2 separate regions of the Homo sapiens genome follow, and region 2 is linked to region 1. Evidence: fine-mapped expression QTL. A gene starts in region 1. The other region holds a variant in brackets. All regions are shown on one strand. Distances are from middle to middle.

Region 1 (16,315 bases):
ATCAGGGTATTACACATAAAAATTTGGATTTCCTGCTTTTCCTGAGTGTGTATGGGAAAGCTGAAGAATGGCAACATCAGACCTACATTCTCATAAAGCAACAATCAGAGAGAACTGAGTGACAGATGTCACTTATGGCAGAGTATGTGCTTTCCAGGTTATCCGCTTCTCCATTGTCTTAACAGCCCTCAGGATGTGTGTTAGTTGCCAGTAAGTAATCAATGACATACTATTCTTTTTCTTCCAAACATCTTGCTTCACTCATTTACTTTAGAGGGTGGTTCCTATGACCATTTCAGTTTCCAACCCTAGTCTAAAATGAAGGAGTACTGGTGTTCTGATTTATATTTTCTGGCCACTTTTGAAACTTATTTTCCCATATACTCCTACCCCATGAAGAATGACTGAAACTACTGACATGGAATTCTATCTGCACAGTGACTAGTAAGAATCCAGGGGCGGGGTGACAGCAAGCTTCTGTTTAGTCAGAAAAGTTACATGTTCACATACAGCCCCAAGTATCCAGAGAAACAGTCCCACTTACTTCTCTGCCCACCAGACCCATACTAGATGACCACCATGGCAGATCTTATTCAGAGAATTGTAACCTCAGGGTGAATAGTACAGCCTGGTTTTCCAGAGCACTAGTCTCCAAAGTAGACTGGAGTACCAGAAGAAAATATGTAAACTTCTATTTAGATCTACTTTCAGACTTAAATAAGGAATTGAAGCTTTATTGCAATTAATATACCACTGAAACCCATGCTGGGCATGCACATCAGAAGGTCACATGTCAGTACAGCATGCTGGGTATCCTGAAGGTAAGGGGAATCTCATACATGGAAGGACAGACAGTGATAACCTCATCTATTCTTTCACTTTTAGTGTTCATGCATTACAATGTGAGTGGGCCTGGATTTATGGAATAATTTGTCTAGTTTTAACCAAATCAACCTTCACAAAATTGACCCATGGCTTTAAAATGTCTTCAAAGAAATAGATTGGTAACACACACACTCATGTATAAAAGAGAAAATGGAAGCATTCATACTACTCTATGATTACAATCAACAGCCATATTACAAGGTAAAAACAGACTACTTAATCAGATCACAAGACGGTGGCACAACAATAAAAAATTATCAGAATAGTATCTGAAGCAAGGATTTAAAAATATAAACAAAATTTGCACTGAGTATATAATATACCTTAAGATACTAACTGACATAGTAAAACATGCATCTTAAGTTGTAGATGCATATTGTGGCTCTGTCCATAAAATTTTGCACTAATAGGAGTGCAAAAAAGACTCTGGAGGCTGGGCACAGTGGCTCATGCCTGTAATCCCAGCACTTTGGGAGGCTGAGCCGGGTGGATCACCTGAGGTCAGGTGTTCGAAACCAGCCTGGCCAACATGGTGAAACCCCATCTCTACTAAAAATATCAAAAAAAATTAGCTGGGTGTGGTGGTGGGCACCTGTAATCCCAGCTACTTGGGAGGCTGAGGCAGGAGAATTGCTTGAACCTGGGAGGCGGAAGTTGCAGTGAGCCGAGATCATGCCACTGCACTCCAGCCTGGGCGACAGAGTAAGACTCTGTCTCAAAAAAAAAAAAGACTCTGGAGGCTGGGTGCAGTGGTTCATCTCAGCATTTTGGGAGGCCAAGGCAGGTGATCGTTTGAGCCCAGGGGTTCGAGACTGGCCTGGGTGACATGGTGGGACTCTGTCTCTATAAAAAATTATAGAAGTAGCTGGGGGTGGTGGTGTGTACCTGCAGTCCCAGCTACCCAGTAGACTGAAGTGAGAGAAAAGCTTGAGCCTGGGGAAGTCAAGGCTGCAATTAGTTGTGATCGTGCCACTGCACTCCAGCCTGGGTGACAAGAGTGAGACCCTGTCTCAAAAAATAAATAAATAAAATTTAAAAAGAGTTTGGAGCCTTAACTTCTATTGCTAGACCATGCTAATTCTGAGGATTCTACTGGAGAATACTAGTATTCACCTGGTTTATGAGTGTTGTTTACACGTTTCTAGTTGCAGGATCTTCATTGCTATTTAATTTCATCATTAATCTGAAATCATCTATTTAAATTTCTTTCTGTCCAAGGTTTAGTTTATCAAAGTGATAACTGAAATCTTCAAAAATAGATATAAAAGTATATTATGTATGAGTGTTTACATGCAAAAGAAATGTATGCTGGTTTTAAGTCAAATGATCATTCAGCACTTAAAATGAAATATTATAGCACGTTTGCCTTTACAATCAAAAGATTAGATGCCTAGAGCCAAGGTATGATTTTTATGAGTCAAAGTCCAAAATGTTTACTAAAGTTATTCATTTCAAAAAAGTATTGTTTTTGATGGTGGTATTTCAGTTTATTCCCACTGGGAAATAAAGTCAGTTACAAAGTGCTTCAGTTTCACTCTATCTCCCTTTGCTTCTAATGTACAATAGTAGAAAATTCTAAATAGCCTGCCAAGATAATTCCATAATCCTTAAAAATTTGGATTATGGCCGGCTGCAGTGGCTCACGCCTGTAATCCCAGCACTTTGGGAGGCCAGGGCGGACGGACTACCTGAGGTCAGGAGTTTGAGACCAGCCTGGTGAAACCAGGTGAAACCCCGTCTCTACTAAAAATACAAAAATTAGCCGGGCAAGGTGGCACACGCCTGTAGTCCCAGCTACTTGGGAGGGTGAGGCAGGAGAATCACTTGAACCTGGGAGATGGAGGTTGCAGTGAGCTGAGATCATGCCACTGCACTCCAGCCTGGGTGACAGAGCAAGACTCCGTCTCCAAAAAAAAAAAAAAAAAAAATTGGATTATGAGAAGTAAACTCTAGAGTTCCTACTGAAATAAACAGCTAGAAGTTTTTTGCTAACTCCTAATCATTGTATGTTGAAAACACATTTATGTCACCTTAAATCTCTGAGGAACCTAAATATATTTATTTAAAAATCATTTATCAGCCAGGCGCGGTGGCTCATGCCTATAATCCCAGCACTTGGGGAGGCCGAGGCGGGTGGATCACTTGAGGTCAGGAGTTAGAGTCCAGGCTGGCCAGCATGGTGAAACCCCGTCTCTACTAAAAATACAAAACTTAGCTGGATGTAGTGGCGAGCGCCTGTAATCCCAGCTACTCGGGAGACTAAGGCAGAAGAATCTCTGGAACCTGGAAGGCGAGGTTGCATTGAGCCGAGACCACACTACTGCACTCCAGCCTGGACAAGACAGAGACTATATTTTTAAAAATTTAAAATATAATTTATATTTTTAAAAATAGAAATCATTTTCTAATTGCTCTACTATTTTCATGTCTTCTGGAGTGAATCAATATCCTGATTGTTGATCTGGCTGGCTGTCTTGAAGTAAGCCTGTCACTCTGTGGAAAACTGACAGCATTTGTTGCCACTGACATAATTTGAATTTTTAAGTAAAAATTAGTTTTCTTCATGTGTTTTAGGATATTTGATATAGGCTCAACTTGATTGTCCCCTCCTGCTTCTATCCCTGTCTAGCGGCTTTATGGTCATGGTCATTTCTGCTTGGCCTTCTGAGTCCCCTGGTCCACAAACACACCTTATGATGGGACCCCCAAACCACCAACATAAGTGAACATACACGTTATCACAAATCCAGACCTTAAGCCTGCAAGTAGATTGGTCCAGGTCTTGAGAGGCTATATATATCTCTTTATTTCTACACTTTTAAGTACTCAGCTCTATTTAAGTCGTAAATCCAGATAGTTGGTTGAGCTTTCTTCAGATTTATTAATAATTACCAAATTTGGGAATAGTCTTTCTCCCTGCCGTATTTTCTGTTCTGTTTCTGGTCCCCAGTGGTGTTTACCTCATCAATTCTCAATGCGTGGTCTGTGGACCCCTGAAAGCTCCCAAGGCTCTTTCAGGAGTTCATGAAGGTAAAACATTTTCCTAACGATACTAAGACATTATTTGCCTTTTACACTGTGCTGACATTTGTACTGATGAAGCAGATAAACTGGTGGGGAAAACTGCCGGGTTTAATAAGAATCAGGAAGAATACCAAACTCTATTTCACTGCCACATACTTGCAGTTAAAAACAAAAAACCAAAAACAAAAAAGAACAAAAAACCCCCACCAGTTTTACTTAAGAATGTCTGATGAAGCAGTAAAAATTTTATTAAACCTTGACCCTTGAGTTCTCTTGTCAGTAGGATAAAATGGGAAATGCAAATAAAGACTTTTGTTGCATACCAAATACAATGGTTGTCTCCAGAGAATGCATTTAAGCAACTGAGTTGTAAGCTGAACTAGTGGCTTTTTTTTGTAACCACCAAATTTCTCCCATCTTCACAGTCAAACAGCGGTTTATGCTGTCTTCACTTTCTTACCACACATTCATTCAGCCTACTAAAATCTGGCTTTTTGATTTTACTGAAACTGCTCTTGCTAACTAGTCCTTATTTTATCAACTAGTCCTTATTTTACTTTACCATTCTATTGCACCTTACGTTTTGGGGTACTCTTTTCTTGAAATTCTAATAGTGATGCCAAGGCATTATTTCCCTCAATTTTCCTAACCATTCCTTCTCTCCTTTGCAGGCAGATATCTGCTATATCTGCAGCCCAAACTCATATTTTAAATTCTAGATCCATATATATAGCTGTATCCTATAGGATACCTCCAAAAGATCTAAAGAGACCACAAACTCAATACATCTGAAACCTTTGACTTCCCATAAAATCTGCTCCTCCTCCTCTTAATGACATTACCTTGAATATGCTAATGGCAACGAAGTCAGAAAGACAGCAGTCATCTTAGGGTCCTCCCTCTTTGTTACCTTCCATATATATTCTAATTTGTAACCCCCTTTTGTAAACCCCTTCAGTCCTACTGAAACTAATTTTAGGCCCTCATAATTCCTCAATCAACAGATTTCCCTTCCTCCAATTCTAGCCTTTCCAATTCATCCTTTTAGAAATTTTCATTTTGTCGGCAGTTAGAGGGATGGATTGGAAAGGTCAGAATTGGAGGGAGAAATCGATTGATTGAGGAATTATGAGTGCCTAAAATTAGTCGTATCATTGACTTGTTTAAAGCCTTTAAGTTCCCATCCCCTATGGCAGGGATTCTGGGCTTGAATGGAATAAACACTCCAATATTCCATACCCTGCACATATGCATTTTCCTAAGGAAAGGGCCCAGATTCCCAAAGATTAACCCCAGAAGCAGCCGACCTCTGAAATCTTTTCAGAACAATCTCAAACCGTACCCTCCAACCTAGCATATATTCCAACTAACCCCCAATTACTTTTAAGTTCTCATACAGGGTTATGCTGCTTCAACATTTCCTTCCACTGAACATAAGATTCCTTCTGCCTAGAAAGCCACTCCCCAAGTGAACCAGTACCCATCCTTCAAGTGTTCTCTCAGCTATGAAGTCCTCCCTAGTTCCTCCAAGCAAATGCTCTCTCCCTCATTTCTTCTACTATTCTTTGCATACACCTTTATCACAGTTTATTACATGGCATTTTTGTATTTTGTATGTCCTTCATCCTTAATAGATCATGAGAAAAAGACCATGTTTTATTCATGTGGTATGCTAGTGTTTAGTACAGATCTGGTATAAAATAGTCAAATATTTACCACACCATTAACAATGTGTAGTCTTTTCATAAAAGGCTCTCCTGTGTAATAACAAGCTGTTCAAACTGAAAGTATTTCTGTAAGATGCTTAAAAAGGGATATTTTTCAAAATACATCAAAACACGAATGAACTTATCACTAGTGCTTGAAATATTAAGGAAAAAGCTAAGTCTACAGTTGTTTAAAAACTTGACAAAAAATATAAGCACAGATATAAACAACTGCCTCTTCATTTAAGTGGAAATCTAAATTATTAGTTATACATTTAATTATAATCCTCAATGAGACTAAATCTAGATATAAGACTTTCTTAACGTTCATATTTGATTAGCCTCGTTAATGAGATTTTCCTCTTGCAATTTTTAAATGCTTTAATCATGGTTTTCTTTATACTTAAATCTGGACTTAGGTTTAAAAAAATCAAGTATATTTATTTATGCGTCTTTCAAGTAGTCATTTGTGTGAAGTCAGCACTACTTCAGTTTTCAGAAAACACACAAAATGTTCAGTGAATGGTGAAATTGCCTAACCCCTTGCGCGGTTACAATGGTCCAAGTAGGAAATCACATTAGGTACCCATCAGAGAAACTGAGTTTCTACGCTGCTTTTAAAAACATCCTCGGTAGGTTATTTAGAACAGGAAATTGAAAGTTCTTATTCTTCTTCACCACTCTATCACTAAGGAAAAGGGCGAAAAAGCTATGGATGTAAATGCTGCTGTCTATAAACACAACTTGCCTGCAGAAATATGTAGTGGGCCGCGAAGTTTGAAGGAAGCCCGCAGTGCCTGGTATATTCACCAACTCCTCCAAGTAACTGATCATTGCCAAGGTCGAATTAATAAGCGTTCTTTGATGTTAATGATTGTGAGTGTTCTCAGGAAAGGACTAAAAGCTGACTTTCTAAACAGGATGTTGTTTGGAAATACCCCAAACAAACTCGATGTCCATTCCTAACGTGTTATTAAGTGAACCGATCTGACTCGATGCGTTTTGTTAAAAGGACTTTCTTTAGTTTCCCTGGCCCACAGTTTATTTTTTTACTATTTTTAACTCGGAGCCCATCTTAAAAACAAATTAAGAACGGAATGCTCGCCAAATCACGTCTACAAGACAAAATCGGCTTCCCAGGGAGCTAGACCTCGAGTGGGCACCGGCAGGGACGTAACCGCTGAGCCTCTCCGCAGAGCGCGACGCCGGCCGCCGGGTTTCGGTTAGACCGCAGCAGGAAGTTTTCCCTTCCTCTGCGGGAGGCAGTGGAGCCAAGGGGAAATTTGAACTCCCACTCCACGGGGACACCCAGAGGGGAGCTCCGGTGTGGGAGGGTGGCTCCCCTGGGAGCCAGGCGGCCGAGGAGCTCGTGATTCGACGCCCGCCGCGGCGTCTCCGCCCCGCGCGGCCCAGGCCGCGGCCTCCCTGCCCTCCCTGCCGTCCACTCCCAGTCCCGGGGCGGCGGCCTCAAAGCCCGCGCGGCAGGGCTGCGTCCCGGCTCGCAGGTCCCCGTCTCCCCGCCTAGGGCGCCGCGCCGAGCGGCAGGCGGGCCTGGCCGGCGCGGGCTGCACTCACCCACTCGAGGACCTTGATGAAGCCGAGTGGCTCCTTGAGCGGGTTGAGGTTGATCTGGAAGCCGGACATCCTCTGAGGAAAGGAGGGAGAGAGAGTCAGGACGACGGGGCGGAGGAGGGGACCGACGAGACCAGAGCAGCCCGGTGGCGAGGAAGGGCAGGCGGGGCTGGCGCGCTGGCCGGGCTCGGAGGCGGGCCCGGGCGGCCGTGGGGCGGGGCGGGGCGGAGCGGCGGCGGTTGAGCTGCTGGCTGAGACTCTGGGGCGGAAACGGAGTGGGGCGGCTGGGGAGGCGAGGGGCGGGCCGGGGCGGAGACCGGGAGGCTTCTCCTCAGGCCGCACCTGGCCGAGTCGACTGATCCGCTGGCGAACCAAGTAGATGTTGGGCGCCATACTGCGTGCGCCGCGCCCCCTTCCCTGCGGTTCAGCCCCTGGCACTCGGTCTTCCCCTGCGCACGCGTGTACGCGTGCGCTCGTTGGGCCCGCGCCGCGCTTCCGGACCCGCGCGACTGCGAAGAGCCCTGACCCGGGGGCGCCCACGCCCGCTCCTGCGCAGCTTGGGGGCGCTGGCCTCAGAGACACCCTCACTTGACCCCGAGCTCACCACAGCTGAGCTCACTACACCGAAGCTGACCTCTCCTTCCCTTAACAGATCTCAACTTTTTTATGAATTTATAATGTATTGGCACAGATGAAGTTGTGTTTCAAGGCATGTGTTAGGGGCCTTTGATTAAAATTGCAAAACAACAGACTTCTGGCTACCGTGCTGTGGGGTGCCTCGAAAGTGTGAATCACCAAATATTCGTATGGAAATTAGGTTTATTTTCAAAGTTACCATCGCAGCCATGGTTGAAAAATGAAGTAAGTTTATACCTAAAAGGAAAGGCGTGGCCGGACAGGCCCTCGGTGACCTACACTTTCACCTCTTCTACGCTGTCGGTCGACAGTCCTCTTTTTAAGGCATCGTTGGTATCTTTCTTCAAGAAGCTGACCCCTTTAAGATTCGGCTTAGGTGATACTTTCCTCTTGGCACGCAGTTACGGGAGCCCCAAGGTAGTGTGATCTCCTTCCTGGCTTCTTCAGTACCTGGAAAGTTCCTGGACAGCTGGAATGTGGTCATATTCGTGTATATGAAAAACCAGCTTCCAAGGACTTACCTGAATTTCAAGCACGAATATGATTTGCAGGCTACTTGCCACTGAGGTTATTCCGTCAGGGTTGACAACTGTTATTGAACGTCCTTGTAGTAAGCGAACCCTTTCTCTTTCGAGACCTATCTCCTTGTTTGCTGTCCAGAGAGTGCAAAAAATACATTTCATTTTCTATGCAGACAGAGACAATCTTTATGTTTATCTTGGCTCCCGTTCCTCAGTCCCCAGCACAGTCAGTGCTCAATGAGCACCTAATGGCATATCTCATTTTGAAATAACATTAAGAACTGGGCGCGGTGGCTCACGCCTGTAATCCCAGCACTTTGGGAGGCCGAGGCCGGCGGATCGTGAGGTCAGGAGTTCAAGACCAACCTGGCTAACATGGTGAAACCCCGTCTCTTATAAAGATACCAAAAAAATTAGCCTGACGTGGTAGCACGCGCCTGTCATCCCAGCTACTCAGGAGGCTGAGGCAGGAGAATCGCTTGAACCGGGAGGTGGGGGGGTTGCAGCGGGTTCCTAATGGATGGTTGCAGATTTCTCCCACTAAGCAACAAAGCATCATAGATACCCCTTAGGGCTAGGTGAGTGGAAGGTGACCATACACTGCTACCTGGTGCGTCTGAGACCACGATGAGCGGTGCTCCAGGTCTTCCAGCTTCCTCTCTCTCCTTTTTTTTCTACTTTGTTTCTGTATCTTCCTCTCAGTACTTCTCTTTTTGTTCTCTTTAGCCCGTTTTTCTAAGCTTTTACTCTCATTCTGTTGCGGTCTTCTGGGTAGGCACCTGGGGACGGAGTAGTGAATAGTAAGACTATTTAGCTTGAGCTTCATATTCACGAATATTCAAATTAGACTCTTAATGTTATTATTATTATTTTTTTTTTTTGAGACAGAGTCTTGCCCCGTCACCCAGGCTGGAGTGCAATGGCGTGATCTCAGCTCACTGCAACCTCTGCACCCCCGGGTTCAAGCGATTCTCCTGCCTCAGCCTCCCGAGTAGCTGGGATTACAGGCACGTACCACCACGTCCGGCTAATTTTTTTGTATCTTTATTAGAGACGGGGTTTCACCATGTTGGCCAGGTTGGTCTTGAACTCCTGACCTCATGATCCGCCACCTCGGCCTCCCAAAGTGCTGGGATTACAGGCGTGAGCCACCGCGCCCAGCTCTTAATGTTATTTCAAAATGAGATATGCCTTGACAGATTAGAGATATGTTCACATGCAGCTTTATTAATTAAAGATCTAAAACATACCATGACTTAGTAAACCAATATTGGCATCTCTTCTTCTTTTTGTTTATTGAAGGCCTTAGAAATTGGAATTGGCCAGGCCCTTTCTCAACTTCCGCGCTAAACTTTCTGTTGCTTCTGTCTGCCTCTCCTCACTTTCTCTCCTGCTTCTTGTTCAAGCCCACCAGTGGAAGGCATGGTGGTTACATTTCCTCAGGAAACCTTCAGTGCTAGAGTAACTCCTTGAACTTTAAGAAGGTTCCTTCCTTGGCCCTGTGGCACTCGATTTTAAAGATGGAGACCACCGAGGGTGAGCAGAACCACATCTGGTCACTTATCAGAACTCATTCGCAGAATCTCTCTTGAGCAGAAGGAAACAGAAGTGAGCCGCCACTGCTCACCTTCAGTCACAGCCTAGCACTGCTTCTGCCAGTCAGCTGAGCTCAGGGGCCTACCTTCCTGAGAAGGAACTGGCCGTGACTGGCAGAGCCAGTGAGATCTGATTGGGCAACAAGATAATTGTGATTTTTTTTTAAATCCTCCTCAAACAAAAGTGTTTAAACAATAGCATCTCATTGAAGGCACAACTGTTCAAAATCAGGGAAGAATGTTCAGATGACTGTATCACATTGACTACAACACTGGTCATTTTCTGATTTGTTCCTCAAATCTGAGGAAAGAGCCAGATGCTCTGGGAACAACATGTTCCAGGTCTACTCTACCAGGGCTATTTGGAAAAGAATCCCTGTAATATAAAATGGTTCTGTCTATCTGAGGTAGTATTATTGAGCTTTATCTGTGGTGGTATAATTATGGCTAAGTTACCTACATAATTTGTCATTGTTTTACTTTCTCTCTGTGGCTTTGAACACATGTGCCAGACTGTGACACTTGGGATTTAGGAATGCTCAGAAGGCCAGAAAGGAAACTATATTTAGTCAACCATATATTAACTATATTAGACATCTCATTGGCTAACTATAATATTTTTTGTTTTTCTCAATGGGAATACAAAGTTTTGGTCATCTTATTGGCAAGATGAGACTTTGTAACTCATTCCCAACCAATATTTATCTCCTTTTCTGAAAAGATATTGTTTAATACCAAATTCAAAACCTGACTTTTGCTTATAAACACAAATAGGTGTTTTGTTTTCGCTAATGAATTCAATAATCATTTTAGAAAAATTTTAAGATAACCAAATTTATTTAAATTGTACAATAGATGGATTTAATAGGCTCAGTAAATTAATCTCAAAGTAATCTGAGGCCTCTTAAACTTTTCATTTTAAAACATATTTTGATTTATGAATTGCAAAGTACAAAGAGTTCTGTATACACTTCACCCAGTTTCCCCTAATGTTAACATCTTCTATAACCATCATACATTTGTCAAAACAAAAAAAATTAGTATTGATGTGTTACTACTGACTAAACTAAAGAATTTTTCAAACTTCATCAGTTGTCCACTAATGTCTTTTTTACTCCCCCAGGATCCAATCCAGGAAACCACATTTAATGTAATGAGTGTCACAGGTGATCAGAAACTATCTGGGGCCAGTGGTACAGGCAGTAAGAAGAATTTACCAAGACAGTCGTAGGTAAAGAAAGGCAGATTTATTTGAGAACGTAGGAAAATGTATTGCAAGGGTGCAACAGGCAGGTCAGCGAAAGAGGAGCTGACTGCAAAGAGTCAAAAGCTTGCTAGGGATTTTATAGGATGGTGCTTGTGCTCTGCGCTTGAAGAAGACTTTGTGCAGTATTGGTAATGCCGAGGTTGCAGTGAGCTAACTTGCATTTTTCTGTCAGCCAAGAGTCAGGTGGTAGCTCGGCACAGGAAGATTGTGAGTGATTTACACATGAGGGCTATGTGTCCTGGACCATGAAGAAAGGCAGACTTATAGCTTATCTATCTGCTTTCTCGTTTTGCTTTCCCCTGGTCCTGCCAGCCTGACTCCTTCTCCTGAATTAGGACTCTACCTTTCTTCACACCCTGACAGCAACAATGACTAATCTTTGGCATGTGGTTAAAGGTCTCATCTTCCAACTGCTTCTTGCTGACCAGGGGTGTATAGTTGGCCCTACCTAGGATTGTTAGTCGGTCAGGAGGTTATGTACACCTAAATCCCTGAGTTGGGACTTAAATTGGTCAGGGTTGCTATGAGACTATGGGAGAACAGCATTTGTAGCCTAAAATTTTGTTCTGCTGCATTCAAAGGAAAGTTATGTAGCTGATACCTTTGCTGTAGTACTGTTTTGGTTTGAAATTGTTGTATCCTAGAAAACACAAAATCAGATGTAGAATTAACAATACAGTATGCAAATAAACAAACTAATATGAGCTTTATTATAGGCAGAAGAAGTTGAGCAACCCATGGCCAAATTTAACTGGAGAAGCTTTGAAATAGTTGTGCTGAAAAGGAATCTTGAGGAACTCTGTTTTGAAGGCCCTTTAATATTTTTATGTTGTCTGTTATCTTTTCTAAACTTTCTTCTACCTGACCTGAGTTACTGATGTAAAAGCAACAAGTTTTATTTAACAGCATGCAGGTGCCTCCTGCTTCAGCAGGAAGCACCTCCTAAGTGAGTTGGTTCTGCAAAACATACCCTGCCAGCGAGTTCAGGGCCTGCCATTGGCCTTCAATGGCCGTGATTGTAGCTTCCCAAGATTGCTGGACTAGGATGGTGAGATTATGAATACTGCACTTAAGCATGGGTATATCTGCAAACCAAAAGATTGCACTGGCTACAGAATGTCCTAGGTCATTTTTCTCTATGACAGGATTATTATTGGCGAGGATGCTAAATGATGGGAGACTAAGTACTGCTTCTGATGTCCTTTGGAGGGACCAACATAAGAAGGATTTTAAATTTGGAGCTTGGCTAGAGGTTACGAAGTCTGAGGAGTTATATATGTGCACTCCAGATATTGCTGCAACTGTAGTGTAAGTGCCTCTTCACTTAATAGACAAGGCTAGAAATATGTTAGATCTGTATAAAAAGAAGAACCCAGTTCCTTTTAATGAAACTCCTGAAGAGGAACCTCACAACCAGGCATAGGTGTGATTAGTTTAGATTCCCGTATGGTTTGCATAAATAGAGGGATCCCATGGTCCCCTGGGATTAAATGTGGATGGGCAGTGACCCAAAAAGTAGTTATCCACGCATAAGGGGGTAAAAGTTTGACTTGTAGTGTTATGTGAATGTGGGGCCTGACAGATATGATTTTTGAATATTAATGGGATAAGAGAAAATTGAGGAAAAGATGTAGATGTATTAGTGAAGTTGAGAAGTCGTCCAGTTTTGACTGCTATTTCTATATGTTCCATCCTGGCTGCTGAACTATTTATAGGCATAAAGGAATTGTTATAAATCTTTCTGGCATGAACTTTGTTGTTTCCTCACCATAGAGAAAAACTGTGGAGGTACACAGTGAACTTGTTAAGAGTCATTGCATGGCTTCCATTCTGGTTTGTTTGATCATAGCTGACAGTGTAATTGCAATGGACTTGTGTGTTAAAGCCCCTGGGAAAGGGCCAGACTCCTTGGAATTTCTAGCATTATAAGCCATCTCTGGTGCCCTCCCTATTTGCTCGGTCACCGTGGGTGATTGGCATGAGGGATCGATTGGCCTAGGTTTACCTCATAAACCTGTATTTTTGGTGTGCGTGTACCTGGCGTAGTTGAATCCAGAGTATTTGGCTTGTGTGTTAGCAATTTCTTCTATAGATAGTGGAACTGCTAGGAGTGTAATGTCATTCTCGAGTGACTGCCCACGTGAGCATATCCAGCGGTTAGTGCTGTGTGTTGTGTTAGCAACCTGAGATATTACTGGTTATAGTGGGTGCTTGGTGTAGCCATGGAAGCAATAGTTAGCCATGACAGACAGAATAAACACAGAAGAATATTTAAGGAAAATGACAATATACAGTAAACTTAGGGAGACAGGAAAGAAGAAAGGCTGTAAAGAGTATGAAAAAAACCAAACAATTAGTACCTCAGCATATCAATGTTGTGGCATGGGGGTAAATAACATTGCTAGGACAAAGATAAAGAAATTTCCCCTGGGCTGTAGTTTTGGAGGTCGGCCTGCAAATAGCAATTGTGTACTATCTCCCTTATAAAAGCATTAATATCAACAGGGTGAAGCTGCTCAAGAGAGGCAGTTGGATAGTTACTGAGAACTTGCAGTAGAATTGAATAAAAAGAGTCAGCTTTAAGAATAACGTTTAAGGGCCAGTCACGGTGACTCACTTTGGGAGTCCCAGCACTTTGGGAGGCCAAAGTGGGCAGATCACCTGAGGTCAGGAGTTTGAAACCAGCCTGGTCAAAACGGTGAAACCCCTTCTCTCTTTTTTTTTTTTATTATTATACTTTAAGTTCTAGGGTACATGTGCACAATGTGCAGGTTTGTTACATATGTATACATGTGCCATGATGGTGTGCTGCACCCATTAACTCGTCATTTACATTAGGTGTATCTCCTAATGCTATCCCTCCCCACTCCCCCTACCTCATGACAGGCCCCGGTGTGTGATGTTCCCCTTCCTGTGTCCAAGTGTTCTCATTGTTCAATTCCCACCTATGAGTGAGAACATGAGGTGTTTGGTTTTCTATCCTTGTGATAGTTTGCTGAGAATGATGAGGTGAAACCCCTTCTCTACTAAAAAAACTACAAAAATTAGCTGGGCGTGGTGACACGCACCTGTAGTCCCAGCTACTTGGGAGGCTGAGGCAGGAAAATCACCTGAACCTGGGAGGTGGAGGTTGCAGTGAGCCAAGATCAGGCCACTGCACTCCAGCCTGGGCGACAGAGTGAGTCTCTGTCTCAAAAAAAAAAAAAAAAAAAAAAAAAAGAATAAGGTTTAAAGGAGGTGCTGGATTTATTTCCATTAACTTTAAGGGAGATTTAAAAATTCTAGGTTGTTTGGTTTAACAAAACCTCTTTTACCTTTTTTAAAAATTTAAATGAGTTTCCAATGTTTACCTTCTAGTTAGAACGTAAATAATGAGTATCATCTCAGCACTAGCAGCTGAGTAACAGCAGATTTAAAGCAGGCAGAAAAAAAGAGAGGAAGATAGAGAGCTTTAGAAGACTCTACTTAACTCTATAGTGCAGGTTAACCATTTGAGCTATGAATTTTTTTGTTGTAGTTTTTCCATCAGTTTAAAATGTGCACAAAATTATAATAGTGAAAGAGATCCGATCTAGCCCACCTGCCCCTCTTGCCTTTAGCTTGTAAGCTGCCTTAATCATTCCAGGGCTTTTGGGCTGAGTTAATTTTAGAAGACATCTGGGTTATAGTTTAATGATAATAGCCCTTCCCCCAAACTCAAACACCTTTTTAAAGCTAATGAGTGGCCATCAGGCTAGGGGGTGGAGAGGAGCCTGATTTCTGCTAAGGCGTAGCCAGCCATTCCTGTAGATAACACCACTATTGTAGGTTGGCTTTTTGAGGTATCTTTTCAGGTTTTTTGAATGTCTGACACCCATGGCTCTACCTGTACCCACCAATCCCACTCCTGTGACCTCACCCAAAAGCGATTCAGTGTGCAGGAGGACAGCTTCCACTCCCTATGATTTCATCTCTACCCCAAACAATCAGCAGCAACCCCAGCCACCCCCACCCCTCTCCTAAACTGCCTTTGAAAAACCCCTAAACTACGATCTTTGGACGAGGCACGTGGCATGGCTGGCCTCATGTCTATTAAACTTTTTCTGTACTGTAATGCTGTACTCTTTCTTTGTACAGCAGGCAGGAAAAACTCCTCGGGTGGTTACACAACCAACCCAAAACTCAGGACTCAAACCCCTGTATGGCTGTTGTTCTACTGGATGGGCCTGGGGCTCAGATGTTCCTCTCATACAAGGAATGAACCTCTGGTTTGGCTACTCCTGTATTCCCTCACTGGGAACACACAGTCAGGTGCGTCTGTCCCACAGGGCCATTCTAAGGGTATGTTCAAGTTATTCCTCTCAGGGGCATTTACCCTACACTTTGACAAGAGGTTTAACCTTCCTAAGTTTCCATTTTCTCATTCCCATTTTGCAGACAGGAAATGAGAGTTGTAGTGGGATTTAAATTTTATAATCATAAGAGATCATTTAGAAGAGTGCCTGGTACAGACTAAGAACTGAGGAAATGTTACCCGTTCTTGCCACTGTGTTCCAGAAACAGTGGAGTGGGTGCATCAGTCTTCTGATTGGGTGGGTAGGAAGCAGCTAAGACTTAGTGCTAGAACAAAAGTCATTTAAGGAAATCAGACTTTGGTTAGAGCGAATTAGAGTTGTAAGGAAGAATGTTCCATTGATAAAATGAAAGAAATATGAAATGAGAATATAATTCTTGAAAGCAAATAAAATGCAGTTTTTCATTACTGAAAACTATGTGGGGCAGAGGTCATGCTAATCCTCCCTGTGTGGGTCTACTTTTAGTCTATTTGTGTCATCACCATTTCAAGCTTAGCTCACATTTAAGCAGTGAATAGACAGGGAAAGTCCTCTAATTTGTAGCAGTTAATTTTATTTTTATTTTTATATTTTTGAGACTGAGTCTCACTCTGTCACCCAGGCTGGAGTGCAGTGGCCCAATCTTGGCTCACTACAACCTCCGCCTCCTGGGTTCAAGCGATTCTCGTGCCTCAGCCTCAAAAGTAGCTGGGATTACAGGCATGCGCCACTGCACCCAACTAACTTTTGTATTTTTAGTAGAGATGGGGTTTCACCATGTTGACCAGGCTAGTCT
Region 2 (16,315 bases), 49 kb before region 1:
TGGCTGCAGCTCACGCCTATGGAGCAGGGACAGCTTCAGTCCTGCTCTGTGAAGGCAAGAAAGCCAGGAGCCTCAGAAAAGCTATGGATGTGAGGGAAGCAGGGGGCCCCAGCTTCGTCATTCCGCATCGTTTTCTCCTTTAAGGGGACAAAAGTGAGAAGACTTCCCAGCGATTCATTCGCTCCTCCATCCTGCAAGGAAGCAGAGCCACAGTTGCCCCACCAGGAAGAAGCAACTTGAGGCCGGGTGCGGTGGCACACACCTGTAGGTCAGGAGTTTGAGACCAGCCTGGCCAACATAATGAAACCCTGTCTCTACTAAAAATACAAAAATTAGCTGGGCGTGGTGGCGGCCACCTGTAATCCCAACTACTCGGGAGGCTGAGGCAGGAGAATCACTTGAACCCAGGAGACGGAGGTTGCAGTGAGCTGAGATTGCACCACTGTACTCCAGCCTGGGTGACAGAGCAAGACTCCATCTCAAAAAAATAATAAATAAAAATAAAGAAGCAATTTGAGGGATACTTTTGTTGCTGTTAGCCACTGAGTTTTTTTTTTTTTTTTTTTTTTTAACAGTCTCATACTGTTGCCCAGGCTGGAGTGCAGTGGCATGATCTCAGCAACCTCCACCTCCCAGGTTCAAGTGATTCTCCTTGCCTCAGCCTCCCAAGTAGTTGGGATTACAGCTGCCTGCCACCACACCCGGCTAATTTATTTAGTATTTTTAGTAGAGATAGGGTTTCACTATGTTGGCCAGGCTGGTCTTGAACTTCTGACCTCAGGTGATCCATCCATCCCAGCCTCCCAAAGTGCTGGGATTACAGGCATGAGACACCACGCCCGGCCTAGCCACTGAGATTTTTGAGGCTATTTGTTATTGCAGCAAAACTTAATGAGAGCTTACTACTACACCCTCTCATCTTCCTCAATCTCTCCTCAAAGCTGCCTCAAAATTTAAAAAATTCTTTTATATACTCATGTGATACTTTCTCGCTTTAGGCCAAGTGAAAATAAAGGCATCTTCATAAACATTTGCTTTTTTTCTTGGTTCATGATATGACTGTACAAACTGCACTTGTGTATACGGCTTTAAACCCAGACTTCAGGCAGGGGGAACAGTCAGTGCAAAGGCCCCCAAGGCAGGGACGTCAGGAGTCCATGTGGCTTGGTCAGAGTAAGAAGGTGGGAGAGTGGTAGGGAGTGAGGCTCATGGAGTGAGAGGTGGGCAGTGTGGACCTGAGCATGGGCCCCAGAGAAGGTGCAGTTTCAGGACAGAAGCACAAGGTGGCACCGTGACACTCCCCTCAGTCACTGTGGACCGCATGTGCGGTGGTAGAGAAGACACATCTTCTTATCCTCCAAAATGGCTCTGCCAGGGAATGAAAGTCCAGCCGACTCCAGCAAATTAGAAACTGTACTCTTAGGACTGGAAAAGCTTTCGAGACCTCTCAATCAGGGAGGTTTCCATGTGGGGTCCATGATGCCTATGCATGGACTCCAGGACCCAGGGGATCCCCTGAATTGCAGTGTGCTTTTCAGGAGAAACCTCCAACATTTTCACTCCAAGGGGTCTATGACCCAAAAAAGGTGAAGAACCTCTGACTACCACTGGTGCTCCCACCAAGGCCAGACTTGACAAGAACTTCCTCAGCAACAGGCAGCCCCGGCCAATTCCACATTATTACCAGGTGCCTGGAGACCTGTGAGTCCTTTGCTATCTCAGTGGAGGCACCCAGTAATGCTTGGAACCGCTGGGCCTGAGGACACTCGGGCTCTCCTTCCAGAAACTAGAGCTTTTGTGAGGGGCCAGCAAATTTGCATACGTGCACCCGTGCACACACGCACACACCCCTCTCTCCACTGTCTTTAGATTGAAGAAATCACATCTTCTGCACATGAACGTCCTGTTGGTTCTCAAAGGTGCCTGGATGTTTCTGTGATAAGTAAAATATGATTGCACAATGTGGTTACTGAATTTGCAGTCACTTTGATCATTATATAGTTTCTCACCCACTGGATGTTTTATAGAAGTCTAATATAGAATTGATCTAATTGAAGTTTAATATATATTCGACTCTATGTGTCCAATATAATGAATGGGGCAGGGAGTCTGTCAGATATTTTGAGCTAAATGAGAAACTTCATAATCAAAATGGTGGGAGCCACAGTCTGGTGAAAGGGAGGGGTCGTGAGTGATGTCTGATGGCCAACAGGTGAGCTGGGACGGCGCAGGGGGCGCGGTGGGGGCAGGACAGGAAGCTGCGTGGGCAGCAGGTGGAGGGTGTGAGCAGAAGTGAGACTGGAGCCTGTGGGGTTGCTCAAGTGGAACTGCAGAAGGAGATCAAGAATGAGGGAAGATGCAAATTTTTAATTCAGCATCTTCTAAAAAAAAGTCCCAGAAATGACTGTATTTGCTATTGGTGTTTTAAAATATCCATTAAATACCACATTTGCCAGCATCACTTCTCTTATCCCGGCTGCTCTAGCAGCCTGAATTCTGCCTTTTTCTTCCCTGAGAGCTGGGCTCAGGGAACCCGCGTATCGACCTCAGGGGGTCAGGCCTGCAGGTGGGTGGCTCCCCTGGGACTCTTTAAAACCAAACCCCGAGCAGAAAGGAGAGGCTGAGGTTTGGGGCTCCTTTAAAGGCCTCCTCTCAGCTTGTCTCCAGTTCACTGCCTAAGAATGTCCTCCAGACACAGGCTCTGAGGCCAGAGCTATTGAATATTTATCAAGGCCTCCTGGCAGACGTGGGAGACTGAGAACAGGAAAATCAGGCCCAGGCGGGCATCTGTGGAGCCTGCCTGGGTGCTAGCCAGATGCTGCAAGATTCAAGTTGCCCGTTGACTCTGCAGAGCCTGCCCCGCCCTGTCCTCCCTCCTCGGGGAGGCGTGCATGGGCCTGGCTGCTGTCAGGGTGTTTGCTTCTTGTCACCATCCTCCATACTGACTTCCATTGCAAGCCCTGCCCCACTGTGGCTCCATTGTCTGCAGTGGCCTGGGCTGACCAGCTCAGCCTGGAGCCCTGCCCTGGGACGATGCGGGCTAACACAGTGACACAAAGCCCTGCTTTGTGGCCCTGACAGGAGGATTTATCATTAGCTGTGAGATGGTCCCTGGCAGATCCTGGCATGTGGTGAGCAGACAGATCTGTGCTGATCACAGTATTTTGAGTACCCCCAGTTGAATACAGCATCTGGGGCCCTCAAATCTGCCACATGGATCTTATGGCTTCAGGCTCACTGGCACCTTTTGTGTTGGCCGAAGTACGGGTAGGGGGTAGATTAGGAGCACTAGCTTGTACCCAGTGACGTCTGGGGGCTGGTTTACAGGAAAGGCACCCTAAGGTTGTGCAGGCCCTGACATGTGGTCCTCCTGGCATCTGGGGACAGCATGTCAGGTTTGGGGTCTGCCCATCCTTGCCTTGGGCACAGGTCCCCAAACAACAGCAGCATCCCTGTGGGTGGGATATCTGACCAGCAGAAAATGGAAGTGAATATCTCTTTGATCTTGGAGTGAGGAAGAATTTCTTAAAAATAACACACCAAAAAATCACAAATCATAAAAAAGAAAGATTCATGATTTCAACCACGTTAAATTTAAGAACCTTGGTTCATCACAGGTATTTTAAAGAAACTCAGAAGATAAGCCACAAGCTGGGAAAAGATATGTGTAGCACTTAAGTGACAAAGGATTAGCTTCAAGAATATATCGAGTCCTGAATGCCTGGTGGGGTGGAGGGAGTGGGAAATAGACAGATAGTTCAGAAGAAAAATGGGAAAAAAATATGAATAGGCATTTGACAGAAGAGGCAACACATAGGGCCAGTCAACATAGGGATGTGCTAACCTAGTCAGTGTCCAGGAAATTGCAAAACAGGCAGTGAGATCCATTTCCTCCAGTCTGTTTCCTCCAGTCTCTCTCCGGGGCCTGGAGATGCTCCTTGGATGGTTCTCAGTGGCCCTGGTCCTCTCCCTGGGAAGCCTGGCCTGTCAGGCTCTGCAGAGCCCTCTGTTTTGTCCTTCCCCCAATATCCTCCCACTCAGAGCCTGAGTCTGCCCCTGCCCCTTCCCTTCCTGTCCTCACCAATGGCGAGTGTGGCAGATCCTCCAGTTTCTAGAAACACCTCCTCACTCCATCTTCATCCTTTCCTTTGATGTTTCCCCAGGTCTTATCCGGCCAGGTGGGCTTTAGGGAACATTTTTCTTCCCCCTTTGAAGCCAGGGTCTCGCTCTGTTGCCCAGGCTGGAGTGCAGTGGCACAATCTCGGCTCACTGCAGCCTCCGCCTCCCAGGTTCCAGCAATTCTTCTGCCTCAGCCTCCCAAGTAGCTGGGATTACAGGCATGCGCCACCACGCCTGGGTAATTTTTGTATTTTTAGTAGAGACGGGGTTTTGCCATGTTGGCCAGGCTGGTCTTGGACTCCTGACCTCAGGTGATCCACCCACCTCGGCCTCCCAAAGTGCTAGGATTACAGGCATGAGCCACTGCACCCGGCCTAGAGAGCATATTTTCAATCAGAAAAGTAGTTCGCTGCACCTCACAAGCCCAACACTGAGTTCCAGGAGGACCTCAGGACAGGCTATTGATGGTACGGTAAACATGGCTGACAACTAGCACGTTCTAGACCAAGTTCAGGTAGAAAGGGACTCCCTCAGCTGGCCACAAAGCTACCCTCTCCCTAGTGTGCAGCCTTATCAGGCTATTGTCCAAGGCAAAAGCTGTGTGTAACAAGCAGCCCACGCAGCCTGCAGCCAGGTCTGCCAAGGCACCTTTCCTAAGGGGCTGCCCATGTGGCCCGCTCACGCAGGATCTTGCTGGCACTCTTCCTTGGGAGCTTACCTTGTTTGGAAACCTTTCCTGGTTAGCCTTTAAGAGCCTCAACAGGCAGCTGAAAGCATGTCCTGAAATGCCTGAACTCATACTTGGAATGAGAACTAGCTACAGCTTAGTATGCCATGAACGTTTGCATCACTTGTTGTCCAATAAATCTGCGGTCCCCAACCTTTCTGGCACCAGGGACCAGTTTCATGGAAGACAATTTTTCCATGAACAAGGAGGATGGGGTGGTTTTGGGATGAAACTGTTCCACCTCAGATCATCAGGCATTAGATTCTCATAAGGAGTGCACAACCTAGATCCCTCGCATGCACCGTTCGCAGTAGGGTTTGTGCTCCTATGAGAATCTAATGCTGCCATGATCTGACAGGAGGTGGAGCTCAGGCAGCAACGCGCACTCACCCACTGCTCACCTCCTGCTGTGTGTCCCAGTTCCTAACAGGCCCTGGGGGTGAGGGATCCCTGCAATACATAACACGTGCTAAGCAGTGGGGTTTGGGTGCTACTTCCCAACTGGCCGCTCTTAGGAACTGGTGAAACCTTAAGTCAGGTGTGACTGAGCGAGCCCCTGGGTCATGGCTATTCTCCTTGCTGCTCTGCTCTCCTAAGTCTGGTTTGAGGCTCCTCTCCCTCCCTGGCGTCCCACCCTGTATGTCTCCTAAGCCAGTCCAGCTTCCAAGGGTCGCTGTTGTTTCTCATGGCCTTCATGAAAACAGCGGGCAGGGCATGTCTCTGGCCTGTGATGGCTCCCCGCTATAGTCCTTGTCATCTGTATATCAAGGAGATTTTATTTCTTTCTTTCTCAGTTCCTCTTTCTTTCTCTCTTTTTTTTTTTTTTCCTGTTTTTCCTTCACTCAACAAATCAAGCTTCCATTAGGCACAAAGAGTCTTGTAGACACTTGAGGACATACCAGTGAACAAAATAGTCTTAAATCCTTGCCCTCATGGAGATTCTATTCCGAATGGGAGACAGGAAATAAGCAAAATAAAATGTGAAACCTATGACAGGGTGAAAGCGATATGCAGTCCTGAGAATAACTTTTATTTGCATGGCACCACAGCTGCAAAAAACAGTGCATTTCACTAACCCCTTATGGTATCAACCATGGATGGGGCAATCACTACAGGCCAAGCATTGCATTTACATCACTTCAGAACCCCTGTGGGAGGTGCTGTCCTATCCCAGTATACAGATGAGGACACTGGCACACAGGGAGACTCAATGACTTCCCATGATCATCCATCTGCTAAGAAGTGGAGTCTGGATTCGAACCTGAAGCCGTGGGACTCCAACGTCTTTGTTCTTTGTCACTGTACAATATGCCTCCCAGCTTCTGTCCTGGCTGCCTCCACAATCACTCAGCAGCCTCTGTACTGCATACACCACAGCGGGAGGTAGTGCGTGGCTGCTGAACATATGGGTGACGAAAGGGGTTTTCTGGTGGGACTGAAGTGCCACTGTCCCTCTTACGTGCAGAAGGCCCTGCCTGCCCTGCATGCCACCATCTAACCTAGTCCTGCCAGCAGCTGCCTGGTGGTGGCTTTGCAGCCCTGTTACAGCCCCTGCTGGGTGCATGATTCACAGGGGTGCAGTGTTGCCTTGCCCAGGCTCAGGCCCTGGCCTGCACCAGCCTGAGACAGAGCACTGGGTCAGAGGTGCCTTCTGTGGCTCCACTGCCCAGGGCATCAATGGAGCAGGGCCTACGGCGAGCCTCTGTGTGTGTCGAGACAGCTAGAACTGTTACTGGTGGAGGGTCTTGACTGCAAGTTGTCCAGGTTCTTGGTGTTCTGAACGAAGAATTGGACAAAATGCACAGCAAAGAAAGGAAAGAATGAAGCAACTAAAGCAGAGATTTATTGAAAATGAAAGTACACTCCACAGGGTGGGAGCAGGCCTGAGCAGCGGTTCAAGGGTGCTGGTTACAGGATCTTCAGGGGTCCAAATACCCCCTAGAGGTTTCCCATAGGCCACTTGGTGTACACTTCATGCAAATGAAGTAGTGGCCTGCAATCAGTCTGATTGGTTGCAGAAATCAACCAAATCGGACAGGTGGGGGTGTTTACAAAGGGAGTAGCCTCTGGTCCTTTTGTTACTTAGGTGTGGAAAGTTGGGGTTTCCCTTTTGATTTAGTTCTAATTAGTCAGTGTGAATCAGCCTTAGGTTCCCTGCCTCCAGACCCTATTCTCCTGCCTCAGAACTTGCCTGGGCAAGACTAAAGGTGGTCTCACAGTCCAGAGAAGCCACAGTAGGGGCCAAGGGAAAAACTTCTTTGCCCTCTGTATGTTCATGGAAAAATCATCTCACAAAATGCAGATTAATAAAAGAAAAGGCAGACAAATTTGTTAATGTGCACATGGGGGAGAACCACAGAGTGATTACCTCCACCCTCCACCCTCCACCCTCCTCCACCCTCCTGTCTAAATAAGCTCTTCTTCTAGGCAAACTGGTGGGGGGAATTGATTCACTATCCTCAGAAATTAGGAAGCATGAAATTATGCTGGCTCTGCTACTGGGGAACAAAGAGCAGGGGCGTGGTGTGCAGCGGCCAGTGCAGGAAGTATAAGTATATATACCATCCTGAGGTTACAGAAAGAATGGGGGCTTGGATCGGGGCAAAATAGGTTATGGGAGGAGAAGATGAGGAGGCCTGGTGAGCCAAGATGATCTTGTTACGTAGACGAAACCTCACAGGGAGCAGCCCCGAGAGAACTGATGGGAAATGTTACTTTCAGACCTTTAAAGGTGTCCCATTTTCAGTTAATTTTTCCTAGATTGGACAAAGGACGACCTCTGAGAAAACCTGAGAAAACCTGGCTGCATCAATGCAGATTCTCTGCAGATGCAAATCTCCCCCAGAAAGACAGCTTTGCAGGGCTCCTTCTGTTTGCAGGCCCTCTGAACAACCATCTCAAATTATGTCAAAGAAGTGTATTTGGGGATGAAACATGTGGATTTCTTTCACCCCCCACCCCCCTGCATCGCTTGTGTACTCTTTTCCCAAAGTGGAGTCTACAGCATGGAGTAGGGGGAGTTGATCTCCAGATATCCATGTCTCTTCCCTGCGCATAGTGACAGGAAACTGAACCCAGGAATCAAAACTCAATATATGAGGCCAGACAATGGTGCTTGTTCCTCCCTCTTGTTGTGAGAAGACATGAAGTGAACTCTGGGGTCATGAGTTACTGTGCTTCGAAAAATAAGCTGTGTGACTTTGGGCAATTGCCCAACCTCTCTGGGACTCAATGCCATTGTCTGTAAAATAGGGCTAAGAACTCCTTTCCTGCCTGCCTCCTAGATTTGTGGTGAGGATCACAGGAAATAATGTATGTGAGTGTGCCCTGTAAACCATAAAGTGCCCTAGTGACATGCACCCATGCACCTCCATCATTCCTGCAGTGACTGAAACTTGGAAATCTCACCAGAATGCATCACTGTGAGACTTGTTGAGAATTAAGTCAAGCAGGGGTTAAATTTGCCAATCACCAGAGCACACTATGTATATTTAAAATCCTCCACTCTTTTAGTAATTGGGGGCAAAAAAGAAAAAAAAAAACATCCACTCTGTCCCAGAATCATTATTCTGTAAAGTTAATGAGTTCCATGAAGGGTCTTTGTGGTGACTCATCCCATCACTTCTTCCACTCCTGCCACCAGGTGAGACCTGGGGAGAGCATCAGGGAGCAGGTGTCTTAAGGATCTGAGGTGCAGGGTGGGGGCTCCCGCAGCGCTGTGTTTAAACAGGGCCCTGCTGACGCCTCACCACGGCCGGCTGGGAAACAGCTGCAGCATAAGGCCTCTCCTCAGGCTAGTGTGGAGCCCAGCAGATGTGCCATTTGCCTCCACAGCAACAGACGTGACCCTAAAACCAGTGAGGTCCCCACCCTGAAAGGCTCCACTGGCTTCTGAGCCTGTGTCTAGAGGGAGTGGGCAAGGATTCCAGGTGCATGGAGAGGTGAACGCTATTACTGACTCCTCTGCTGGCCATATGCTTACTTCCTTTATCCTCCCATCAGCTCTGTGAAGCACCCACCACTTTAGTGCGGAGGAAGCCGAGCCTTAGAGAGGTCAAGGCCTTTATTTCAGCCTCCCAGCCAGCAGGCAGCAGGGCTCCAAATCGGAACCCAGATTTATTGGACCCCAAATCATAGGCTGTGACAGGGCTCGTTATTAACCAGGCCATAAATACTTCCTGAGTCCCTATCCCGTCCCTGGAACTGCTGGGGACATGAAAGGCACAGGAGGCAGGGGCCCGACCTCACGGGGTTGGAGCAGACCTAAAGTGGGATGAGAGCAGAGGAACCCTGCGGCTGGGGCTCTCCACTCTTCCATCACGCTCTGTCCAGCAGGGCAACTGGAGGGAGCCATGAGCATGCGATGACCTGGCGGCTGCTCAGGATGGGAGGGACCACTGTCAGCCAGGACTGGCAGGACTGTGTGAGTCATCCTAGTGGGTGAGGGAGTCTTCCTGGGCTCTGGGAGCTATGAGTCCATGATTCCTGGGCATGTGAGGAAGCTGGTTAGGAGCTCAGCCAAAACTTAAACTCTCAATCCAGCACTCTTTACACTCCCACCACATCTGAGCTGAGACTTGAAGGGGTGGGGCATGGGTGATTCTGGTCCCAGGGACTAGAGCCTGGGGGCTCCCACCTTTTCCTCTGGTTCTGCACTGACCTGCCCTCTGGTTCTGC[C/G]CTGACCTGCCCTTGCCAAGCCCACTGGGCCGGCGAACAGTTGTTTCCATTTTCCCTGCAGCCTCTGTTCTGGGAACCAGGCCAGCATTCATAGCCTTTCCCCTCCTTTTCTTTTTGTAATAGAAACTGCTCAGGGCTGCCAGGAGCCAGCAGTGTGCTCCGCGGCTCACCGTTTGGCTGGACTGGAGGTGAAGCTTCTTGGTGGCTCCTTCCCAGCCTTCTATGGAAGCTGGAATCCACTCTCCCGAGGCCATTTCTCCTCCCGGGGTTCCCTCTCTGCAGCCTCAACCCCCCAGTGCCCTTTGTCCCCTAAAGCGAGCAGTTTGTTTTCAGTCCAATACCTCCAGGGGATGGGGGGGGGCGCCTGGAGGAGTGTCCCAGGAGAGGGTCCCACCAGCCACGCTGCCCTGAACCCCCTTAAAATGGGGGTGGTGTGACAGTAACTTAGAGACCACTTAGATGACCTCAGGCATTCTGAGAAATCTAAAGGCTGATCTGAAGCCAGAGGAGGAAAGTTCATTCACCTTTGTCCCAGCCCCTCCCCGACTCCAGGACTCTAGCGTTGGCTGTTTTTATTTGCAGTCCAGCGTCCGGAATGAGCGGAGTTCCTTTTGGGAAGGATGTGCGGCAGGTGTGCTCACTCTGCCCGGGAGCGTCTCCCCGCCGAGGAGCGCCCATGCTGACTGCGAATTGTTCCACACTGCACGCAGAGCATTCCTTTAGCAGCCTCTTGTTTTCTTAAGTGACTCTCTACAACTGTTTCCTTGGAGGCGTTTGTCTAAATAAGCTCTTCTTCTAGGCAAACTGGTGGGGGGAATTGATTCACTATCCTCAGAAATTAGGAAGCATGAAATTATACTGGCTCTGCTACCGGGGAACAAAGAGCAGGGGCGTGGTGTGCAGCGGCCAGTGCAGGGCCCAGGACAGGGTGTGGGGGCTAATCACAGCCCGCGGGGTGGGTGGGAAGTGCCCCAGCCCCAAGCTGGGACTGTGCTTCTCGGCACCTTCCACACCTTATGTAGCTCCCCTTTGGTCTCCACGTTTCTGGAAGTCACAGCTGCACCCTGGGTCACCTTAAGCTTTTTCACAGTGGACCACATGTGATTCTGAGTTACATTACTTTAACCTCAAGAGCTTGACTATTTTCTATATCGTGAAGTTATAAAAGGATAGTGGAATCTCACAGTCATTTGAGAGACAATACTTTTTTTCGACCATATGAATGTTTTGTACCATGGAGACAGTGTGAGCCAGGCTAGGAGGTCTGGTCAGAGACACTTATTTTATTTTTAGTTTTAGTTTTTGTAGAAATGAGAGTCTCACTATGTTGCCTAGGCAAGTCTTGAACTTCTGGCCTCAAGCAATCCTCCTACCTCGGCCTCCCAAAGTTTTAAGATTACAGGTGTGAGCCACTGCACCTGGCCAGACACACTTAGTTTAAGGAGCAATGTGCTATAGGCAAGAAAGCCAAATATATCTCAGGTCAAATCTGGCTCTGCTGTGTGATTTGGGGCAAATTAATGAACCTCTCTGCACTTCTGTTTCCTCATCCATCAAAGGGGAATAATAAAACCTATCTCACTGTGCTGTAAAGATTAAATAATGAAATGGATGCAAACTACCTCACATAGTACCTGGCCCACAGCAAGTTCTTAACTAAAGAGAACTCTCTTTCTCTTCTAAAACCTAGGATGCCTGAGGAGTCTAGGATTAGGAATCTCTGAATATTTACTAGTAGCATTGCTGGGGTGGATCAGAAATATTTGGGAAAAAAGTTAGGAGGAAAATGGCACCTATGAGGATGTCATAGTCATCAGCAATGAAGGATTTGAGAAGTTCTTTAGCAGAAATCAGGAGATTACCTCTTTCATTCAAACCCTAGCGAAGGATGCTTTACACTATGACTATGATTACAGAGAAATGAGAATATTTTCCATTTGTGATATAGAAAAACCATTCCCTTAACTGGGGGCCACATGCTGTAGGGAGTTCAATACCATTCTCCAAGTACATGAGGCCCAACCTACATCCTGGTTCTGTCTCTTTCCCCAGCCCTGGTCCTTTGCAAGAGGTAAAAGTCTTTATAAGTGCATGAGAATAACTGCTCAAAATCACTTTTAGGTTTCCCCCAAATTCTCCTGATCTCTAATAAAAACAAATAATTGAGGGGATGTGACATTACCCTTGGTCACTAGTGATTTAGAGCTTCTGTCCATTGCTCCTTGGAGCTGCTCATCCTCAAAGGTACCCCAGGCAGAGGCCAGCAGCGAGTTCAAGGCCTTGTCAAGAAGGTTTTCCTTTAATAATACGCATCCACATACACAAAACACAGGCCTTCCTGGAATTGCCAAAAGACAGCAGCTGCAAAAAGGACTTGGACAAGAAAGTTTATTGCAGCTTTATTCCAAACAACCCAGATGCCCATCAACAGGAGAATGGTAAACAAATTATGGCATATTTATACGATGGAATATTACACAGTTATAAAAACAGCAAATTTTTGAAATGTGAACCTCACAGTCATGATGTTGAAAGAAACAAGACACAGATAAAAAAGTACATATTGTGTAATTCTATTTATAATGGAGTTCAAGAATCAGCAATGTTAATCCTAGATGACGGAAGTCAGATAGCAGTTACCTTTGGGTAAGCATGCTTACTTTGGACTTGGAAGGGGCACAGATAGCTTTCTGGGGCTGTGGAAATGTTGCGAATCTTGGTTTGGGTAGTTACATGGGTGTATGCGTAGATAAACATTCACAGTGATGTGCGCTCAAAATTGTGCATTTTATGGGACATAAATTAAAAACGTAAAAATATTGAAAAACAGAAATTGGAGAAGTGTTAAAGGGTCAGGTTGAATGAGGACTGTCTAACCTGGAGCTGGCATCAGAAACAACTACCAGAAATCCCTGTAACCTGCTTCTCCTTTGGGGTCTGTGAACCGCAGGACTAAGACACTCCCACATTCTGACCCTGGCACCAGCAACAGACTACTTGCCATCGGATTGATGTCGAGAAATGATCACAGGATAACAGCTCTTCTCACGGTTCAGCAGATAATAGTAAGTCAAACTTTTGCCCCAGTTGAACATCCTATCTCTAAGTATACCCCCCATTTCCTCTGAACCCCCCTAAACCATTTGCCAGTCACCCAAATCACCATCTGTGACCACTACTCCCCTGCATTCTACATCCAATCAATCACCAAGCCCTGTCAATTCTCCTTACTTGATAGCTTTAACACTCCTCCACTCCTCTCCAGCCCAGTGTCTTAAATCCACACTAACATCCTCCTTCTAGATGATGCGCCCACCTCCCACCTGCTCTCCCAGACTCCTGTGGTCTTGCCCTCCCTTCAATGAACTTGCCAGCTGCTGAAGGGATCATGGCCCTAAAATGCAAATCATAGAATACTTAAAAGAATTTCTAAACCTCCCAGGATTCACCCAGGCTCCTGGCATGGCTTACAGGCTGTAACCCATGATGCAAACCAGGCTTGCCTGTCCTGACAGCCTCATCTCTCTATGCGGGGCACTGTCCTAAGTGGTAGAATTAATTACAGCAGTGAATGAAACAAAGTTCCTTCGCCGATGGGATTTGCCATTTTGTAGGGAAGTACAGACAACAAACAAACAAATATATGAGATGATGTGGTATACATGTGAAAGACAGAAAAGCAAGATAGGAGACAGGGAGTGATGTGGGATTCTGTGTCAGCTGGGATGGTTAAGGAAGGCCATTCTAATGAGATCACATTTGGGCAGAAGCCTGAAGGAAGAGGCTGCTTGCCACCCCACACAGCAAGGGTGTGCCACAGTCATCTGCTCTCCTGGCAGTTCCGAGAGCAGGCTGGGCTCCCCTAGGCCTCTGGGCCTGTGCACGCACACTTCCTCTCCCTGCAGCATTCCATACCATCAAGAACTGAGATCTTATCTCATGTGCAGGTAATAATCACACATGCCAAAATTTCACGGATGTTGGTAGAAGACATGAGGCTCCTGGGTCAGAGAAGAAGGACAGTTTCTTCACTTCCAGTAATAGTAACAGCCAGAGTGGCAGCATTTTTGCACTGGTTTTCTGACCCCAGGTGACCCAACACCACCATTCAGTGAGATAGATGAAGTCTAAATAAGAGAGTAAACCATTGTGGAAGGCATTGAAACCATAAAAAGTAAGATGAGAACAGTTGAGAAAAAGACACTTAGAATTGACTGCAACATTTACAGAGTTTTGGTGTCAGCAGAGGCCTTAGTATTAGGTGATGGAAGCCCGCCACTGTAAGGTTCCCGCCCTTGAGAATCTGCTCAGGACCAGCTGGTGAGATGGACGTGTCAGCAGATAAATTGCAAGGCTGTGCTCTCAAGCTCTAGTGCACAAAGGACTATGGGAGCCCATAGAATGGGTAGGAGGAGGCCATTCAAGCTAAATCTTGACAGATGGGCAGGAATTCATCAGAAAGACTTAAATATTGGTCTTGAAAATAGCACTGCATACAAGAAAAAAACACATGCATTTATGAGGCAAGAGTCCCTGAAGTTTCACATTTACACAAAATGATGTGTGTCTTTTGGTGGGGGAAGCGGATGTGAAATTCCCTACAGATAAGCCCAGGCTAGCTGACCAGATGAGGTGAGATTTCTTTCAGGTACTGCCTAAGCAATCAATGGCCAGAGAGGGCTGCGGGGCTGGGCTGCTGGGCTGCGAGGCTGCTGGGTGCTGAGGGAGCAGGGGGAATGTTCCCTGGGGTGTGGCTGGCCATGGTGCTCGCCATCCTGGAACAAATCAACTGAGGCGCAAATCTGCAGCACCTTTGCCACAGCCAGAATCCACGGTGGTTCCTCCGTGAGCACATGCCCTGAATTCCACCTGGCCTGTGCGTCATGCTCAGTTGGCAGGATATCAGAACCAATGCTGCCAACACCAGACTCTCCACGTGCGGAGCAATTTATGAAACCCTGGGGCCAGCAATGGCCACCTTTGCATCCTGGAGTTAGGATGACCCTGACACATCCCAGCCCCAGCATACACCACCGCGCTGCCCTGAGGCTGGGCTCTACCTTTTGAGAGCTACTGAGCTCTGCAGAGATGTGGGTGAAGGGAGCCACAGACATATCAGTCTGGCAGGGGCTTAGAGTCACTGCTCTAACTGCCTATCTGGCAGGTGAAGAAACAGAGGCCAGGGCAGGCAAGCCCTGACCAGGGCAGTGTACCTGCTTGGTAGACGAGTTCTCTCCTTCCCCCAGTGCAGTGCCTACTGTCTCTCTTTAGCTGTGCCTAGCTGGGTTGGGGTCTTTTCTCTGGGCTTCCCTAACCACTCCTGCTGACCCCTATCTGAGCTCCAACTTCTCCCTGGAAACCACGCATTAACCTATTACCTCCTCGCTACACTGTGAGTTCCTGAGAGGGGCTTGCGTCTTTCTCATCTGGCAGTTGGCCAGAGCCCCATAAGTACACTCAAGTTGAATGAGCGATTAAATGGGTGACTGCAACAAGCCTGGGCAGGAATGGGTAGTGCTCTTTTTGGTCATGGCTTCTTAAACACAAACAAGGTGGGCTTCATTGGGCCTTATTTCAGAAAAAAATATTCGTCTTATTATAAAAAGTAATGTTTGGCCAGGCACAGTGGCTCAAACCTATAGTTTCAGCACTTTGGGCGGCCAAGGTGGGAAGATTGCTTGGGCCCAGGAGTTTGAGACCAGCCTGGGCAACATAGTGAGACCCTGTCTCTTAAAAAAAAAAAAAAGTTAGCTATGGTGTTGCATGCTTGTGGTCCCAGCTACTTGGGAGGCTAAAGCAGGAGGATCACTGGAGCCCAGGAGTTGGAGGCTGTAGTGAACCATGACTGTGCCACTGCACTCCAGCCTGGGCGACAGAGAAGACCCTGTCTCAAAAAACAAGTAAGTAAAGCAAAATAAAAAGTAATGTTTGACTTGAACTTACAAGTTAAAGAACTGATGAGTCGATTGTGCTGTTTTGATTCTGTGGCTCCTGTCATCCGTCTCACTCTACCTCCCAGCGACACAGTCCTGTCCTCCTAGATACATGTACCCTAGCTTGAGAAGTGGGACTGCGGGAAGCTGGGCCAACCAGGTGGCTTATTCACTGTCTGCTGGGGCAGGAGGCAGGGCAGGGGCAGGAGGGAGGCAACCCCAGCCTGTGCCCGGCTTCCCCGAGGCGTGTGCCTTGTGCGGCTGCTGAAGGAGTGACTCCTGAGGAAACCAGCTTTTCCAGGGAGGCAAGGGATGGGAGAAGAGGGTGGAGAAGGAAGTGGTCACACCACTTGCCTTCTGCCAATACTGTCCCTTTCTTACGCGTTAACCTTCCACTCTGAGCTATGACACTTTCAGTACTAGTGTGGTAAGTTCTACAGGAAACAGGAAACATGGTTTAACAGACATCCCTTTAAGCTTTAAGTGTAGCCCAGGCCCTGTTCTAGCTAGAATGAAGTTTTGCATAATGAATAGATACCAGATTCCCCTGAAGGGCTCTTGCCCCAGAGACTCTCAGTGGCCCACGTTCACAGGTACTTGCAGGCATGCATATATGCTTCTCACCTCTTAGGAAATGGCCTTTGCAGGCATGAAAAAACAAATACCTCAAGTTCCCTTCCTGAGCCTCTTAGGCAACATGAAAAAACTACATACCAATCCCGAGAATGGAAGCTGGTTTGGAGTTTCACCTCACAAAAAGCTGGCCCCACCATGCTCACCCAAATGGCAGATTTATGAAGGTTCTGTTTGACAAGAGCAAAGGATCCACTTTGAGCAGCTCTGGGCCTATGGAAGGCAA

Direction of the effects. Alleles are on the strand shown, and positions count from the first base shown. SD is a standard deviation of normalised expression in the study named.
For the expression in esophagus mucosa of the gene that starts at base 7,363 in region 1, G is the low allele of the variant in region 2 and C is the other (small effect, 0.28 SD a copy in GTEx).

What was found. PIP is the estimated chance that this variant, and not a neighbour inherited with it, causes the effect.
Region 2: its variant is fine-mapped to the expression of SYPL1 in esophagus mucosa (GTEx, PIP above 0.99). The same link has a PIP of 0.9 or more in nasal epithelium.

Annotation. Positions count from the first base shown.
Region 1 is chr7:106,104,950-106,121,264 of GRCh38, forward strand. It overlaps SYPL1 (synaptophysin like 1), which reads right to left and starts at 7,363. Exons shown (of 5, transcript NM_182715.4): 1 at 7,191-7,363. The coding sequence starts at 7,259. RefSeq lists an enhancer at 6,593-7,425 and silencers at 6,881-7,130, 7,141-7,630, 7,711-7,770.
Region 2 is chr7:106,055,833-106,072,147 of GRCh38, forward strand. No RefSeq gene overlaps it. Among named protein-coding and RNA genes, the nearest start is that of SYPL1, 48 kb to the right of the region's middle. RefSeq lists enhancers at 953-1,002, 1,513-1,562, 6,377-6,506, 6,537-6,706, 7,017-7,066 and 4 more and a silencer at 3,273-3,392. The variant C/G (reference allele first, on the strand shown) is at 9,524.